Linked DNA regions of Homo sapiens: region 1 is linked to region 2. The links come from fine-mapping of genetic effects on gene expression. A gene starts in region 2. The other region holds a variant in brackets. All regions are shown on one strand. Distances are between the middles of the regions.

Region 1 (4,391 bases), 100 kb before region 2:
CCTGGCCAACATGGTGAAACCCTGTCTATACTAAAAATACAAAAATTAGTCAGGTGTGGTGGCACGTCCCTATGGTCCCAGCTTCTCGGCAGGCTAAGGCAGAAGGATTGCTTGAGTTCAGGAGTTTAAGGCTGCAGTAAGCTATGATTATCAGGCCACTGCACTCCAGCCTGGTGACAGAGCAAGACCCTGTCTCTCTCTCCATCAAAAAAAAAAAAAATTTACTTTTAAAAAGGACTATAAAATCTAACACCCATTATAAAAGCAATACAAAGAAGTTTAAAAAAAAAAAAAACACACACACACGAAAATCCCACTAATCAAAGATAACTTTTAGGGCCATCACAATTTTATGTCAATGGGATATGCCACACACGGCACTTCATCAACTGCTTTTTTGCTTAATGATAGTATTGATATATATAAGTCTAAATCAATTTTAAAATGGCTAATGTCAATTTACCATTTCTTGTGCAACATCTTCTGGGACATCTCTCTCTAAATCAAAAGAAAACTCAATAGCTTCATTATCTTTGTATTTTCCCTTTAATTTCTTAATATCTTCAATACGTAGCCATAATTTTATGGCTATTTTTTCTCCATCATCTTCTTCTGCTAATTCTACCCGTACTCCTGTTTCCTCTTGGAAGAAGGCATGGTTCAAAAGGTCTTTGATGGAATATCTTCCAAACAGAGGGAAAAGAAAAGGAACAAAAATAAAACACCATTAGTTTGAAAAAATAATTTTCAAATGTGGCCAATTATTGTTATTCGCAGAAGAAAAAAATGGGAAAAAATACAGGGGAAAGTATAACTCATTTTTACATTGCTGAATTTGAAGGGTGCCTACAGAGGTTTACTCTGAAGTTATAAAACATCATAACAATCTCATTCATGAATAAGAGCTGACAGTGATAATTTTTAAATCCAATGATCTCATTAGTAATAGTATACTAGTAATGGCGAGCTAACACAATTGTAACATAATTTTTAAATCCAATGATCTTATTAGTAATAGTATACTAGTAATGGTGGGCTAACACAATTGGCTCTATTAAAGCTTCAAAATACCACATGATCATTTATATAGCATTTTATAAGTAACACAAATCTTCATATTTATGATCTTGTCTGACCAACACCCAATTTGATATCATCTCCTGATTATTAGGAAATGGAGGCCCAGAAAGGTTGAGAATCTTGCTCACAGTTATAAAAGCTGTAAATGCTGAAATAGAAACTAGAAAATAAATATTTTTGTTTCTAGTTTGGTACTTTCTACCACAGCAAGCTTTATTTACACCAGTAAGTTCTCTTAATTCCTTGTTCAATAATTTGTGTACTGGGCAAGCAGAAGTCTGATTGTGAAACAATCTTAAGATAAAATGGTTTCAATATGCCAATCATCTAATAAACTGCTCCAACAAGAGTTGAAACAGGCTGGGCCCAGTGGCTCACACCTGTAATCCCAGTACTTTGGGAGGCCAAGGTGGGTGGTTCACCTCAGGTCAGGAGTCTGCAACCCGCCTGACCAATATGGTGAAACCCTGTCTCTACTAAAAATACAAAAATTAGCCAGGTGCGGTGATGTGCGTCTGTAGTCCCAGCTACTCAGGAGGCTGAGACAGGAGAATTGCTTGAACCTGGAAGGCAGAGGTTGCAGTAAGCTGAGACTATGCCACTGTACTCCAGCCTAGGCGACGTGACAAGACTGTGTCCAAAAAAAAAAAAAAGAGTTGAAACAAACATTCCTTTGTTTATAGTAAAAAGTTCTTAAAGAGATTTAAGTACCCAGCATATATAAAAATGAAAACTCAAACTAAATTTTTACTTAATAAAGGCTTAAAAACCATGAAGTTAAGCTCTTCTAAATAACGATGTTATAAAAAGAACGAGACTGGAGAGGTGAAAAGATGGAATT[C/T]TTTAATTCGGTTGATACATCTGATAGCTCTCATTCTTCAAGTGGTAGATTATGCTCAATTTGCAATTTGTATTTGTACTAGCTGGTCTCCTTTTTCTTTTTTGGAGGATGGAAGGGGGTGGCAAAGATAGACTGTTTTTCAGAAACAGACACTGGACCTTCGCCATGCCTGACGGGTGATGAATCAGCTACATGGCAGATCAGATACTTGCCACTCCTCTAAGAGAAGCCCTCTGTTAGTACAAATGACTAAGCCACATCTCCTTCCAACCCCTGGGCCAAGTCTTCTCTTTTTACTCAAGGAATTTTGATGTTTTGCTCTTCTTCAATTCTGGCGTAAGGACGGCAAATCAGACCTGTAATAGCTGAGCTGACTTTAAAGAGCCAAAGTTTTATTTCACCACTTAGAATTCAATGGTAAAGGACTAAGAAAAGATTTCCTGTGTTAGATATTAAACTCTTTTTTGAGTTTTATAAATCATGCTGATGTTTTAAGTAAGCAGTTCTCATGGAATGTAGCTATGTTTATGGTGGTTCTGGTTTACTGAAACTCTACCAAACCATATTTTTACAGTGTTCCAGTATATCAAATCTGAATAACCACAATGAACAAAACCCTACCTTTAAAAATGTTACAGGCACAAATAGAGAAACCAATCACAAATATTAAATACACCGTAGAATGTGTGTTGTACTCAAAGCACATTACTTTTTAGGTTTTGTTCAAGTATCACCCAGATCAAAAGAGGCAACTTACCTTTCATCTTTGTTTTGTCGTATGCATCCTTCAATAATTTCCTTCACTTCAGGAATTGCTACTTTGTCAAAACTGGCTGGCTTCACCCCCTGAAAACCATAAACAGAAATACATTAATAAAAGCAGGGCCTTTGAACTTTGTTTTTTAAATTTCCAATTAAGGTTCTTTTAGGTTCCTTTCTTACTATCCCGGCTTTTTTTCTGACTCGCCTGCAGGAGTTGGTCCATGCAGTGTCACAGTTGGGTAGTGACAACTTAGCTCTTCACAAGAAAACATGGAACAGTGACAGCAGGGTCACTTACTTCCATATGTGACAATGAAAAAATTTAGGCAGATGTTAATATCTTCTGCTGTGTTTCAAGTAAAGGAATTTATTGCCTAAAAAAGAAAGCTAAATGTTCTAATTGGTTAGAAGATCTTTTGTTCAACCTTGTTCCCTAAACACATAAATCAATACAGCATTTAACTATTTTGAACACTGAACCCATGTGTGGGCATGAATTCACATGCTTAGTTTGGCAGGGATTATATTATTATAGTAATCTTTAACAAACTCAAAGGAGTTGAGGATTTATATTGTTTTGGTATGATAACTGAAGAGCAAATTGTCCTGCACAAATAAAACACAATGAAAAGTAATATATTGGACCCATACGAAAGACAAGCTCTGCAATTAATCTCAGAAGAAAACTCATTACCACTATCACATGTGATACTACATAGTAGTCATCACAGTAATAGTTTAAAATCTTTATAAAGTATAAATAAATTCTTTCTTATTTTTTTTTTTCCCTCGAGATGGAGTCTTGCTCTGTTGCCCAGTATGGAGTGCAGTGGTGTGACCTTGGCTCACTACAACCTCTGCCTCCTGGGTTCACGTGATTCTCCTGCCTCAGCCTCCTGAGTAGCCGGGAATACAGGTATACGCCACCATGCCCAGCTAATTTTTGTATTTTTAGTACAGATGGGATGGGGGTTTCTCCATGTTGGCCAGGCTGGTCTCGAACACCTGACCTCAGGTGATCCGCCCTCCTCGGCCTCCCAAAGTGCCGGGATTACAGGCGTGAGCCACCATACCCAGCCAATAAATTCTTTAAAAATAAATTTTCAGGTTGGGCGCCGTGGCTCACACCTGTAATCCCAGCACTTTGGGGAGGCTGAGGTGGGCAGATCACGAGGTCAAGAGATCGAGACCATCCTGGCCAACATGGTGAAACCCCGTCTCTACTAAAAATACAAAAATTAGATGGGCGTGGTGGCGCATGCCTGTAGTCCCAGCTACTCGGGAGGCTGAGGCAGGAGAATCTCTTGAACCCGGGAGGCAGAGGTTGCAGTGAGCTGAGATCAAGCCACTGCACTCCAGCCTGGTGACAGAGCAAGACTCCATCTTTAAAAAAAACAAAAACAAAAACAAAAACAAAACAGCAATGTGTGGAAAATATACATAAGATGTAAGAACAAAATGCTACTGTCTAAGAGGTGGGGTGAAAGAGAAAAAGATCTCATCTATTCTGACCTCATCTAAGTCACCACACGGATCAAGAGTTGAAGCACTGATATGCTGTTCAAGTGGCACTGTAAGTCAACAGACACATAAAACAAAGGGAATGGAGTTGGGGTGGGGTGGTCAGAAAAGTTAAGTTATTAAATATACATAAATTCTGATTATCTATAGTGTCAATGACAGATATGGTAAAACAAAATTAGTGACT
Region 2 (4,391 bases):
CATGGGCTCCTATACTATTCGCTGTATAGTGAATGGGCTGAAAGACATTAGTTTAATGAACGTCAGAGCAATGCTGCTACTGTAAGGCTTAAGCATCATTAGGTAGAACAACATCAAACATCCAAAAGGGGCAGAGAAGAGTCTTTTTTTAATAATTATTTTATACTAAATGCCTGTGCAACCATCAAGCAAAATACATCCAAAGGTACAAGGTTGTTCTCATTTAAAAAGAACAGCCTGATCTCAGGAATGAAAACACGCTTCTACACCCAGACGCAGCTCATCACTGCAGAGCCTTTGATGAGATTGAAATGCACAGAAGAAGAAGCATCTGTACTTTCAACTTCCCCACTCATTCCAAGTTTCCTGCCAGACTCTAAACCAGGAGACAATTCGTTTGTACTAAGATGACCTTCACCACCGCTGCCCGGTAGCAAATCCCTCTGGCTACCAATAATTCTTATCCTATCCCAACACCTAGGCACATGCTCCACATTCTCCTAATTTCAGCCCCTTTCAAAAGTTGGCCTCCCCGTCCCACTCGGAGTCCAACAGAGAATGCCAAGTGAAGGGTGAACTCGATCAACTGGCTTCGCCGAGCCAAATTTGGGATCCAAAGGACCGTCAAATAAAGTAGGTGGGGCTTTACCTGCAGTTCACACCAGGCGACTTCCACGGTGGTTTCAGTGTCCAGACCTTTGTAGACCGTCTTAAAGGAGCCTCTGCCGATTTCGATGTCAAACTTGAGAAAGCGGCCATCGTTAGACATTCCCACGGCCTTGGTCTCCAGCTCTTCGATATCATCCTGCTGCTGGCTCCGTTCCTCCTGTGGCTCCTTGGCGCTGCCGCCGCCGCTGCCACTTCTCGCCGGCGGCGGCTCCTCTTTGCTCCCCACAAGGCTAGGCTGGGACACTGGGCGGTCTTTGCTGGTACTGCTGGGGACAGTCGAGGGGGCAGGGCCCGCGACGGCCTGTTCCCCAGGGGCGGCAGCGGCTGGAGGCTGCTGGGCTACCTGGGAAGTGGCGGTGGCGGTCACGGTCTCTTCCCGGTGGGGCTCCGGTGGAGCACTCTGCGGGACAGCCGCGGGGATGCTGGGCTGGGGCAGGGAAAGAGGAAGGCCGGGAAGCTCCAGTGCAGTGGCATTGGAGTCACAGATGACGCTCCGGCGGAAGAAGCGGTGCTCAGTGGTGGTAGTGGTCGCGGCCGCCCCACGGCTGTCCTTGTCCATAGTGTGGCGGCGGCGCCTGTACTCCTCGGTCCTGCCGGTCACAGCGTCGGCGGCCGCGGCTCCCAGTTTCTCCCCCACGGAGGAATCGGAGCTGGAGCCATTCTTGGGGGCAGGAGCCGGCGGCGAGAGGAACAGGGAACCGGGAGTGCTGCTCTGCTTCTCTGCGGCGCCGCCAGACATGGTCGGTTCGCTGGAGAGAGGCGAGCGGGCTCGGATTCGTGAACGAAAAGGGCGTGAAGGGCCGAGCCGCCCGCGCAGAGGTCTGCAGGGAACCGCGGCCGGGCGGGTTCGCGCCGACCCGGACGACGCCTCACTCAGCACCGACAAGCCGCAACGAGGGACAGGCGGACCGCTGGGCCCAGCTGCGGCGGGGGCTGGCACCGAGGCTGCTGCGGCTCACGAGGAGGGCTCGAAGGCGGGCGATTCGGGAGCTGAGCCACGGGGGTTAGCGCCGCACGGTCCGCATCCATCCTGCGGCGAGCGGCGGCCGGGCGGGCGGTGGCAGCAGAGGCGCCGCAGTCATGAGGGGAGGGCCAGGGGCCGGCACCGAGTCGAGGCGGATGCGGCGGACGCGGCTCCCACTGCCGCCGCTCGCCGAGCTGGGCGGGCTAGGCCCAGAGGGCGGCGGCACCGCGAGCACGGGACCAGGTCCGACGCCCGGGCGGTGGCGGCCCCGGGGCAGAGGAGTGGGAGGGGCCGAGGCGGGCGAGGGAAGGCCGCGGCCCGGCTCCCGGTCACTCGGGCGGCCGCCTCCTCCCACACGCGCCCCCAGCGATGGGGACCGGCCTCACAGGTCGCCCATCGCCCAGAGGCGAAGGGCCGGAGCCTCGGAGCCTCGGCGCCTGAGGAGCGGGCCCCCCCTTCCCCGAGGCCTCCCCGCCCGCCCCAGGCCTGGCAAACCCGTCTCCTCCCGGGCCGGTGCCGGGGGCTGACGGAGGAGGGAACGGCGGGGAGGGGAGGGCCGCTCACCGCGGGGCCCGAGCTCCGCTGCTTCTCTGAGGCAAGAGGAGAGGAGACCTAGAGGACTGGGTGAGGGGGAACAGGGAGAGAAAAGAGCAGCCACCCCCACCAGGCGCCTTCTGTCACCGAAGATGGGGGTGCGGAGTGGCCGAGAGAGGAGCCGCGTCCACCCGGGAAACTCTCCGCGCTAAATGGCGCCGGGAGTCTGAAGCCTCCACACAGCCCGCTCGGATCCCGCCCCCCGCCGCCCGGAGCAGCCCCACCCCCCAACTCGCTCCGGGGCTTTTGCGCAGGCGTGCTAGCCCCGAGGCACCCTGGGACTTATAGTTTACGGGTTGGCGGGGATGAACGGGACCTAGAAGAAAAGTGCCTACGACTTCCGTGATGCCTTGCGGTTGCTGTAGCCTAATGCCTCGTGGGAGTTGTAGTTTTCTTTGGAAACCGTCCCTTCTGAAAGGCTGATGGGAGCGTCATCACGGGTCGCTCAACCCCATCCCGAAGTCCGCGCGAGCTTAGGAAAATCATTATTTAGGGATTAATTGTGGAAGAAGGAAAGGAAGGAAAAAAAAAAAAAAAAGAAGAGGAACGAGCGGGCGGGGGGTGGGGGGGGGGATGGAAAGACTCCCATCATGCTCTGCTAAGCTAGAGAGCTCTTAGGGTTGCCATGCAATGAAAAATGATCTGTTGTTCATCTTTAATGGAGAGAGCCTCAGTAGTGTTGAGTGACTGCAGGGCTGTGAGGGTGGAAGGGAAGGGCAAAGCAGGATAACCGGAGCCTGAGCTCTGAGTCGGAGGAGGGGAAAAGAAACTTTGTGAAGATTGTGCATGAAATTAATATTGATTAAACGGATTGGAGGAGGAGACACGGAGGATTACCTTCCATCCTCCTCCCCTCATCAATTAAGGCCACATTCTCAGCTCCCGGCCGAGACGGATATTCTGGCTCTCAAAAAAGGGCTGCCTTACTGAAATCGGGGATCCTAGTGAACTCTATCTTTGCTTTGTCTGAAAAATAATAAAAGGGGGGTTGGGGGAGCGGTGGATTCAAGAAAAGATAAGGTCTACGGATCTATGGGTCTTTGACCACACTTGGGGGGCTGGGCTGACTTCTGCCTTTGTAGTTGGTTGAAACTTATTTTCCACCTTTCTTCTGCTGGTGGCTTCGTGAAACAACACCCCCTCTTTCTCTAGAGCTCCTGAATGTCCACATGCAATGTCTACAAAGGCTCTGGGCCCGGGAAATGTGGATCCATGCGGCTTGCCGCCATGGAATGTTTTTCTTGAAAGCATCCTTGTCTGCCTGGACCCCTGTGCTCTTCGCAACTACTCAAGATGTGGAGGGGACGAGCACCAGGGGGCACCAGACCGAGTAGGAAGCCGGACTCGGGAGCAGACTGCAGTTTAAAAGCCTCAGTCCAACCGGTGGAGAGCGGGAAGCGCTGAAAACGTACGCAACCGCATCAGAGCGTCCGGACGCGGCCGCCTCTCTTCAGCGCCCGCTGCGGAACAAGCTCGAAAGCGCGCGTCGGGGCCGAGGACCACGCTGCGAGCGAGCAGCTAGCAAGGAACTCGGCAGGAGGTTCCTTAGCACAGTTATCGGATGAGCTCCACCTACAGAAGTCTTGCCCTGCAGTTCATGTTAATTCATCTGATACGTAAAATACTTAACCCTATTTTTCTTTTCTTTCTTTTTTTGTTGTTTATCACAAGCTACACTTTCAAGTTTACAAAAATGTTTTAAACCAATGATCGTTAGGTTTCATGAAGCTGACAGGTTACGAACATTTTAAAATGCCGATTCAGCAGGGACAACTAGAGTACTAAAATATTAGTGTTCCATTGCTTTAGAAAATGTATCTTTCATTCGTTTGCTATTGGTAATGGTAAATAATCTCATTATGGCAAATGGAATTAAGAGTGTTTTTCTAACCGTAAACCTAATGTAAGCAAGGGAAGAAATGGCTGTAAAATACATTTTTATTGTACTTTTGAGTAAAATAAAACTTACCCAATTGTTGCTTCACTAGGAAAAATAGTCTGATTTTAAACATAAGGCAGCTAATTACAAATTGGCAAGTTAAAAGAAGATCAGTAAATCACAATGTTCCCTTTTGGCACCATGAAAAAATTAGGATATTTTTGTGTGAGTGGTTGTTAAAGGATTTTATTATTGCCTGTTCCTGTTTACTGAGCCCTGAAACTT

What was found. PIP is the estimated chance that this variant, and not a neighbour inherited with it, causes the effect. A credible set is the group of variants that fine-mapping cannot tell apart.
Region 1: its variant is the best candidate, but not a certain one, in a credible set for the expression of WNK1 in whole blood (TOPMed, PIP 0.76).

What each region holds. Positions count from the first base shown.
Region 1 is chr12:855,537-859,927 of GRCh38, reverse strand. It overlaps WNK1 (WNK lysine deficient protein kinase 1), which reads right to left. Exons shown (of 28, transcript NM_018979.4): 5 at 2,679-2,767; 6 at 464-683. Among named protein-coding and RNA genes, the nearest start is that of RAD52, 92 kb to the left of the region's middle. The variant C/T (reference allele first, on the strand shown) is at 1,922.
Region 2 is chr12:750,583-754,973 of GRCh38, reverse strand. WNK1 (WNK lysine deficient protein kinase 1) reads right to left here and starts at 2,395. Exons shown (of 28, transcript NM_018979.4): 1 at 650-2,395. The coding sequence starts at 1,408. RefSeq lists enhancers at 945-1,663, 1,664-2,382, 3,140-3,189, 3,240-3,339 and silencers at 1,500-1,879, 1,890-2,269, 2,350-2,499.